Linked DNA regions of Homo sapiens. The protein of the gene in region 2 purifies or fractionates together with the protein of the main gene of each other region. This does not show direct contact. Each region holds a gene or a part of one and is shown on either strand. Other genes may lie near its edges.

The links.
Region 1: the proteins of OXNAD1 (region 2) and SRR purify together in Homo sapiens (affinity purification with mass spectrometry; 2 studies listed by BioGRID and IntAct, with this or other methods). This does not show direct contact.

The regions. Positions count from the first base shown.
Region 1 is NC_000017.11:2,310,368-2,314,188, reverse strand, and holds part of SRR (serine racemase), read right to left. Parts: intron 1-3,821. UniProt on the Homo sapiens protein: Catalyzes the synthesis of D-serine from L-serine. D-serine is a key coagonist with glutamate at NMDA receptors. Has dehydratase activity towards both L-serine and D-serine.
Region 2 is NC_000003.12:16,302,904-16,306,600, forward strand, and holds the end of OXNAD1 (oxidoreductase NAD-binding domain-containing protein 1 isoform 2 precursor), read left to right. Parts: intron 1-504; coding exon 505-659; 3' UTR 660-3,184; downstream 3,185-3,697.

The DNA.
Region 1 (3,821 bases), on a different chromosome or scaffold from region 2:
CGTGAGTCACTGCGCCCGGCTCCTTCTGCATTCTCAATATACATTATGTAACAGTTAAAGCAAACATTTTATTTGCTCCTACATTTGACTCAGTTTCTTTACAATTTTCATAATTTTCAATAACTACATTAAGCTTCCACTTTCCACTGTGTCTATTGTAGCAGTTAAATATGAAGTTTCTCTATTTTTCCTTATTACAAAAGAATCTATATTCATTAGAAAACTGAGTTAATCTGAAAATACAGAGATACAAAAAGAACATGAAAATAGCCACGAAACCTTCCTACCTAAAGACAGTTGCTATCCAGTGGTTTACCTTTCCAGGCCCAACTACATATGCAGACAAAACTCTTTGGTAGGTTTGGTAACTTCTTTTTTTGTCAGACAGTATTATGAATATCAATGAATCTCATAGGTGAGTACATTTATCAACATTTTTTTTTTGTTGTTTTTTTGAGATGGAGTTTCACTGTCACCCAGACTGAAGTGCAGTGGCATGACTGTGGCTCACTGCAACCTCTGCCTCCTGGGTTCAAGCAATTCTCCTGCCTCAACCTCCTGAGTTGCTGGCATTACAGGCGCCCACCACCACACCCAGCTAATTTTTATATTTTTCGTAGAGGCGGGGTTTCACCATGTTGGCCAGGCTGGTCTTGAACTCCTGATCTTAGGTGATCCGCCCGCCTCGGCCTCCCAAAGTGCTGGTATTACAGGCGTGAGCCACCACGCCCGGCCCATTTATCCAACTTTTTTTTTTTTTTTGAGAGAGTCTTGCTCTGCCGCCAGGCTGGAGTGCGGTGGCGCCATCTCAGCTCACTGCAACCTCTGCCTCCCAGGTTCAAGCGATTCTCCTGCCCTAGCCTCCCTAGTAGCTGGGATTACAGGCGCCTGCCACCACACCCAGCTAATTTTTTTATTTTTAGTGGAGACAGGGTTTCACCATGTTGGCCAGGCTAGTCTCGAACTCCTGACTTCAGGCAATCCACCTGGCTCAGCCTCCCAAAGTGCTGGGATTACAGGCGTGAGCCACTGCGCCCGGCTTTATCCAACTTTTAAAATGACTTAATAGTACTTCTTTTACAAAAATACAATAATTTAGCTGGGGGCAGTGACACACACTGGTAGTCCCGGCTACTTGGGAGGCTAAGGCGGGAGGCTTGCTTGAGCCCGGGAGTGTGTTATTATCACGTCTATGAATAGCCACTGTACTGTGGCCTGGGCAACATAAGCAGGACCCTATCTCTTGAAAAAGAAAAAATAATAATTTTAAGTTTACATAGCTCAAATGAACATTTGGATTTCCTTTTGTTGTTGTTGGCTGTAAGAATGATGTAATGAATAGCCTTGTTGCAAGATTTTTGTGTACCTCCGTCAGTCCTTAGGGTAGATTTCACCAAATGGTATTTTGTATCAAAAGGCATACATATTTCTAAGAAATCTGATACCCACTGCCAAACTGATCTCCAGAAGGGTCCTATATTACATCAATTTGTACTCCCAACAACAGTTTTGATGGAATGATGCCTCTTTTCCTTCATCCGTCCTATATCATTTTTATGTCAATTTAGTTATGTCTAGTAGTTGTTGTTTCTTTGAGACGGAGTCTTGCTCTGTTGCCCAGGCTGGAGTGCAGTGGTGGGATCTTGGCTCACTGCAACCTCCACCTCCCAGGTTCAAGTGATTCTCCTGCCTCAGCCTCCCGAGTAGCTGGGACTACCGGTGTGTGCCACCACGCCAGGCTAATTTTTTGTATTTTTAGTAGAGACAGGGTTTCACTGTGTTAGCCAGGATGGTCTCGATCTCCTGACTTCGTGATCCACCTGCCTCAGACTCCCAAAGTGCTGAGATTACAGGTGTGAGCCACTGTGCCTGGCAATGTCTAGTAGTTTTAATTTACATTAATTACTAGTGATTGAACATTTTTTTGTGTATCTTGGCCACTTGTTCTTTTCTCAGTCTTTTTTTTTTTTTTTTAGATAAGGTCTCACTCTGTTGTCCAGGCTGGTGTACAGTGGCTCAATTATGGCTCCCTGCAGCTTCAAACTCTTGAGCTCAAGTGATCTTCCCGCCTCAGCCTCCCAAGTACCTGGGACTATGACTGTGCACCACCATACCCAGCTAATTTTTTAAATTTTTATTTTAGTAGAGAGGAAGTCTTGCTGTGTTGCCCAGGCTGGTCTCAAACCCCTGAGCTCAAGTGATCCTTCCGCCTTGGCCTTCCAAAGTGCTGGGATTACAGGCATGAGGCACCACACCCAGCCTTCTTAACACACCATTTACTGACAGAATCCTTTTCCTCTGAAATGCTCTATTTATCAAAAATTAAATTTCTATGAATGGTTGGGGCTATTGTATTTTGTTCCATTGGCCAGACTGCCAATGTCTTTTCCTATTATATACTGTATTAATAAATTCTCCCTTGATTGCTCTAAAATTCATTGGCTTTTCTCACATATCAATTCTTTCAGGTGAACTAGAATTACTTTATCAAAGTTGCCAGAAATTCCATTGTAAAGATGTATAAATGAATTGGAGGCATTATTTATTTACTGAGACGGGGTCTCTTGTCGTCCAGGCTGGAGTGCATTGGCATGATCTCAGCTCACTGCAACCTCTGCCTCCCAGGCTCAGGCAATCCTCTCACCTCAGCCTCCTGAGTAGCTGGGACCACAGGTGCACTGTGCCACCACAAATACAAAAAACGTCTGTATTTTTTGTAGAGACAAGGTTTTGCCATGTTGCCCAGGCTGGTCTTGACCTTCTGAGCTCAAGTGATCCACCCACCTTGGCCTCCCAAAGTGCTGGGATTACAGGCGTGAGCCACCATGACGGGCCCGAAAACTCAATATTTTTTAATGTCAATTATGCCCCCTCGGCTGGGCACAGTGGCAGGAGGATTGCTTAAACCCAGGAGTTCAAGGCTGCAGTGAGTTATTGTACCACTGCAAGAGCAAGACCCTGTCTCTTAAAAACAAAAAAACAAGAGAACAAAAAATAGTTGGCTGGGCGTGGTGGCTCTTGCCTGTAATCCCAGCACTTTTGGAGGCCAAAGCAAGTGGATCACTTGAGATCAGGAGTTCAGGAGTTTGAGACCAGACTGACTAACATAGTAAAATCCCGTCTCCATTAAAAAAACAAAAATTGGCCGGGCGTGGTGGGTCACGCCTGTAATCCCAGCACTTTGGGAGGCTGAGGTGGGAAGATCACAAGGTCAGGAGATCGAGACCATCCTGGCTAACATGGTGAAACCCTGTCTCTACTAAAAATACAAAAAATTAGCCGGGCATGGTGGCGGGCACCTGTAGTCCCAGCTACTCGGGAGGCTGAGGCAGGAGAATGGCATGAACCCGGGAGGCGGAGTTTGCAGTGAGCCAAGATCATGCCACTGCACTCCAGCCTGGGTGACAGAGCAAGACTCTGTCTCAAACAAACAAACAAAAAAATTAGCCAGGAGTAGTGGCATTTGCCTGTAGTCCCAGCTACTAGGGAGGCTGAGGCAGAAAAATCGCTTGAACCTGGAAGGCAAAGGTTGCAGTAAGCCGAGAATGTTCCACTGCACTCCAGCCTGGGCGACAGAGTGAGACTCTGTCTCAAAAAAAAAACAACAACCAAAAATCCCAAAAAACCATGCCAGGCCTGAAGTCTCAATATTTTTATGAATAAATGTCAATTATGCCCCCTTGGCAGGATGCAGTGGCTCATACCTGTAATCCCAGCACTTTAGGTGGGCGGACTGCTTGAGCTCAGGAATTTAAGACCAGCCTGGGCAACACGTTGAAACCCTATCTCTACCAAAAATACAAAAATTAGCCGTGCAGGTG
Region 2 (3,697 bases):
GTTGGGTTTACTCATTATATACAGGTTTCCTATTGCCTGTGTTAAAAGTGTACTTTTCACACTTTTTAAGAGGCCTTTGCATCATCACTGTAGTGTCCATACAAATAATTTATATTCCAGATTTGGCTGAATTGATTCCATTTGCCATTAATGGTCATTTAAACAACTCATAATTTCCTCTGAAAGGATTTTTATAAAACAGTTACTTCCTTTGCTGAAGGCAATTTGTATCTCCATCAAAGACCAGTAAGCTAGCTGGCCCTTTCTGCAGAGTGCATTACGATGAGCTTCCCACTTTGCTTGCTTAGGTTTAGGAAGCCTGGAGATGCACTCTGCTTGGGTCTGGGCCCAGATGCCAATAGGAGCCATACTGTGAATGGCTTAAGAAGACTAGACTCACTGAACTTGGAAATAAACACTGTATCTGAATTGTGGTTAGTCCTTCCTCATTTGCTGATACAACCATGTCTGGCTTAATTTGGTGTTTATTCTGGTTTTTGGTAGAAGGAAGAATAACGGAGAAGGAGATAAGAGATCATATTTCAAAAGAGACTTTGTTCTATATTTGTGGCCCACCTCCAATGACAGACTTTTTCTCCAAGCAACTGGAAAACAACCATGTACCCAAAGAACACATTTGCTTTGAGAAGTGGTGGTAGGAGGCAGACAAAGGCAGAAAAAATAAAGAGGTGAGATCTACTCAGGAGAGCTCCTGTCCTTTGTGGCATGATTAATTTTTTTTATCTCTACTTGAGTTGTCTTATTTTTTAAGGCTATAAACTTAGTGACCAGCTGGATAATAAAAGCCAGCTGGCAGACTTAAATGATAAACTTTTTGCAAAGACCTCAGTGATCAAACTATTTTTTACTATACTGATTTTCTGTTATTAACAACGATTTAATTGTCTCATGATGTACCATGATTGGTCAGTATAGATTTTTCTTTTGTCTTTAGGCAAAAAAAAGATATATACTTATGTCTAATCATAGGAAAATGTGATTTTTGAGTATAAAATGTGGGCTAGCTTTAAATTATTTGACAGCCATCTATATATCTTATGTTTAATGAAAGTATAATTTAAATACAATCTTAATAATTTTACTTTGAAAATTCTTTTTATTTAATGCCTTTGTTTACTGTACCATGGCCTACAGTCTTATTTGGTCCATCAAAGTTAAGTTTGGACATGGAAAATTGTTAGGAAAACTGCTTTAGGGAGTTAAATATCCAGCATATTTGCTTTCTTGTTAATGAATATCCTAAGTGTGTATCCTGACTAATTGTTAGTTTCTTCTCAAATGAAACCCTTTCTGTGTCTTGGCTGTCTGCCTTAACGCTGTAGGAGGCAGCTTCTTGCTTGGGACAAAGGCATTGGTGATGTGTTCCATGTTGAATCTGCCTTCAGTGCCTGGGCTGGCTTGCTATGGAAATGTGCTTAGCATTGATTAGGGGGTAGAGAGCTGTTTCTAAATCCTGCTTTTCTACTTTTTATTTCACTCATTTGCCAGAATTGTTCTTGGCACCAGCAGCTCCTTAACATATAGTTGTTGAATGACTGAAAGAAAGCAACTAATGTTTTAACTCCTTGCTAAGTCTGAGATTGGGAGGCAGTCCCCTAGAGTGGATAGAAAGAATGGTGGAGCCTCATCCCAAAGCTGCTCTGATGAAACTGCTAGAAAGCAGATTGTAGTTCTTTGTTTAGATTTTTAAAAATCCAAAAGAAGTCCTGACTGAGGCCAGGCCATTCCTTTTATGACAAGTAGTCCTGGGCCCAAGGTTGCCTGCATAGAGATCACAGGAGGGTGAAGGGAGCCTGGGAAGAAGGACAGATAAGTGCTGGAGACCTAGGAGCTCCAGTTGAGATTCTGTTCTGGAGCGGATGAGAGAAGACAGGTTACCCTTTCTTATCTTTGTTGTTGCAGGCCTCCCAGGGACTTGTGGGCTTGAACAGATATGATTCATGGGACCTGAAGGTGACTCTAGCTTCTGCCCAGTTTTGAGTTTTGTCAAGTTTTAAGCAGAGATCATTTGTCAACTATTTTGATCCCAGATTTGAATTTGGGGAGGAAGGGAGGAGCTACTGACCTGATGGGAATATCATAATCCATTCAAGGAAATGGTCATTAGTACCTCAGAGGTGAAGGGAATATGTGAAGCTCTGGATCACTACAAGGAGCCCTGACTTACCAGTTGGCCCCAAAGTGCCCAGGCTGAGGGCATAGGAGCATGATGAGATGCAAGGATGTGGGATTATCAAGGGGCACGTCTACTAACTGGTGAAGGCAGTCTGCGGGGGAGGACACCTAAAGGTATGCGGAAAGTACCTAACCCAGACCTCTCTGCATTAGGAGTGGAGGTGCAAAGTGAGCATCTCCAGTGCAGCATGGGATGGGAAGATAGGGAGGTGTCGCCCACTGTCTCGGTTTAGCCAGCACCACGGCTGGCTGTGTGCCTGCTACTGTCAGAGAGCAAGGGTCATCTGTCCTGCCCAGCTATGCCTGCCACCCTGTTGCTGACTCAGTATTGGCAGAATTGCTGAGATGGGCCAGGTCATCACCTTTGCCTGGAGTGTTCATCCTTTCAGTGCCATTATTCTGGTGCTAAGTGCTGAAGAACATTTTCAGGTCTAGCCGAGAATGTCCTCTTGCTCTTGCCTGCCAGGCCTGTCCAGATCTTTTTGGTACTTAAATTGAGCTAACTCCAGCCAGAGTGGCTTGGAATTCATAGTGCGGTGGCTCAGAGTATAGGCTCGAAAGCCCTTGAGCCAGATTGCCTGGGTTCAGATCTCACCTATACTACTTACTAGGTAGATGACCTTGAGCAAGTCACTTAACTGCTCTATGCCTCATTTAAAATTACATACAACTACATGTAAAAGGGAGATGATACTGCTGCCTACCTACCTACATGATAGGGCTGTTACGGGGATTGAAGGTGATCATACATGTAAAGTGCTTGGCAGAGCACTGCATGAGTGTGTTGTCGTTATTAATTTGCTATTCCTTGTCCTATTCAGAAAGGATTTCAAGAGGCTGGATGCCTTAGATGTGGTCTAACTTGAAACCTTCATGTGGGTGTGCGTCTGTCTTGTTTATTGCTGTGCCAGGCACAAAATAGGTATTTCATAAATATTTGTTAATATGCTCAGAGTTGATAAGCTGGATTAAAGTGACTTCTTAAGGATCCTCTGGCTCTATGAGTTTGAAAAAATGTTTCTTCTTTTGACATAAGACCCTTTCCCAGCCTACTCAAGGGACTAGGTTAGTCTGATATTTGTATCTTTCTCAGATTTTATTTATATTTTTTCAAACATATGACAAAGTAGAGATAGTAAAATGACTTCTCGTGCATCCATCACCCGGCTTCCATGACTAGCAGCATTCTGTTTTTGTCAGCCCTCAGCTTCTTTGTGGGGGTGTTCTTCTTGCTGGTGTGTTTTCAAGCAAAGCCTAGCAATTGTATCGTGTCACTTCTAAATTCTTCAGTATATATTTCTAACAGATACATCACCTCAGCACAACCACAATGTCATCATCATACCTAACACAAGTGACAATGATTCCTTAATATCCTCTAAGACCCTTCTGTGTTGTTTCCTCATGGCCTCAAAAGTCCGAATATTGCATTAGGTTAATGTCTTTTATTTTAATTAATTAATGGCACACTCCTTACACCCCCTACACATATACATGGACA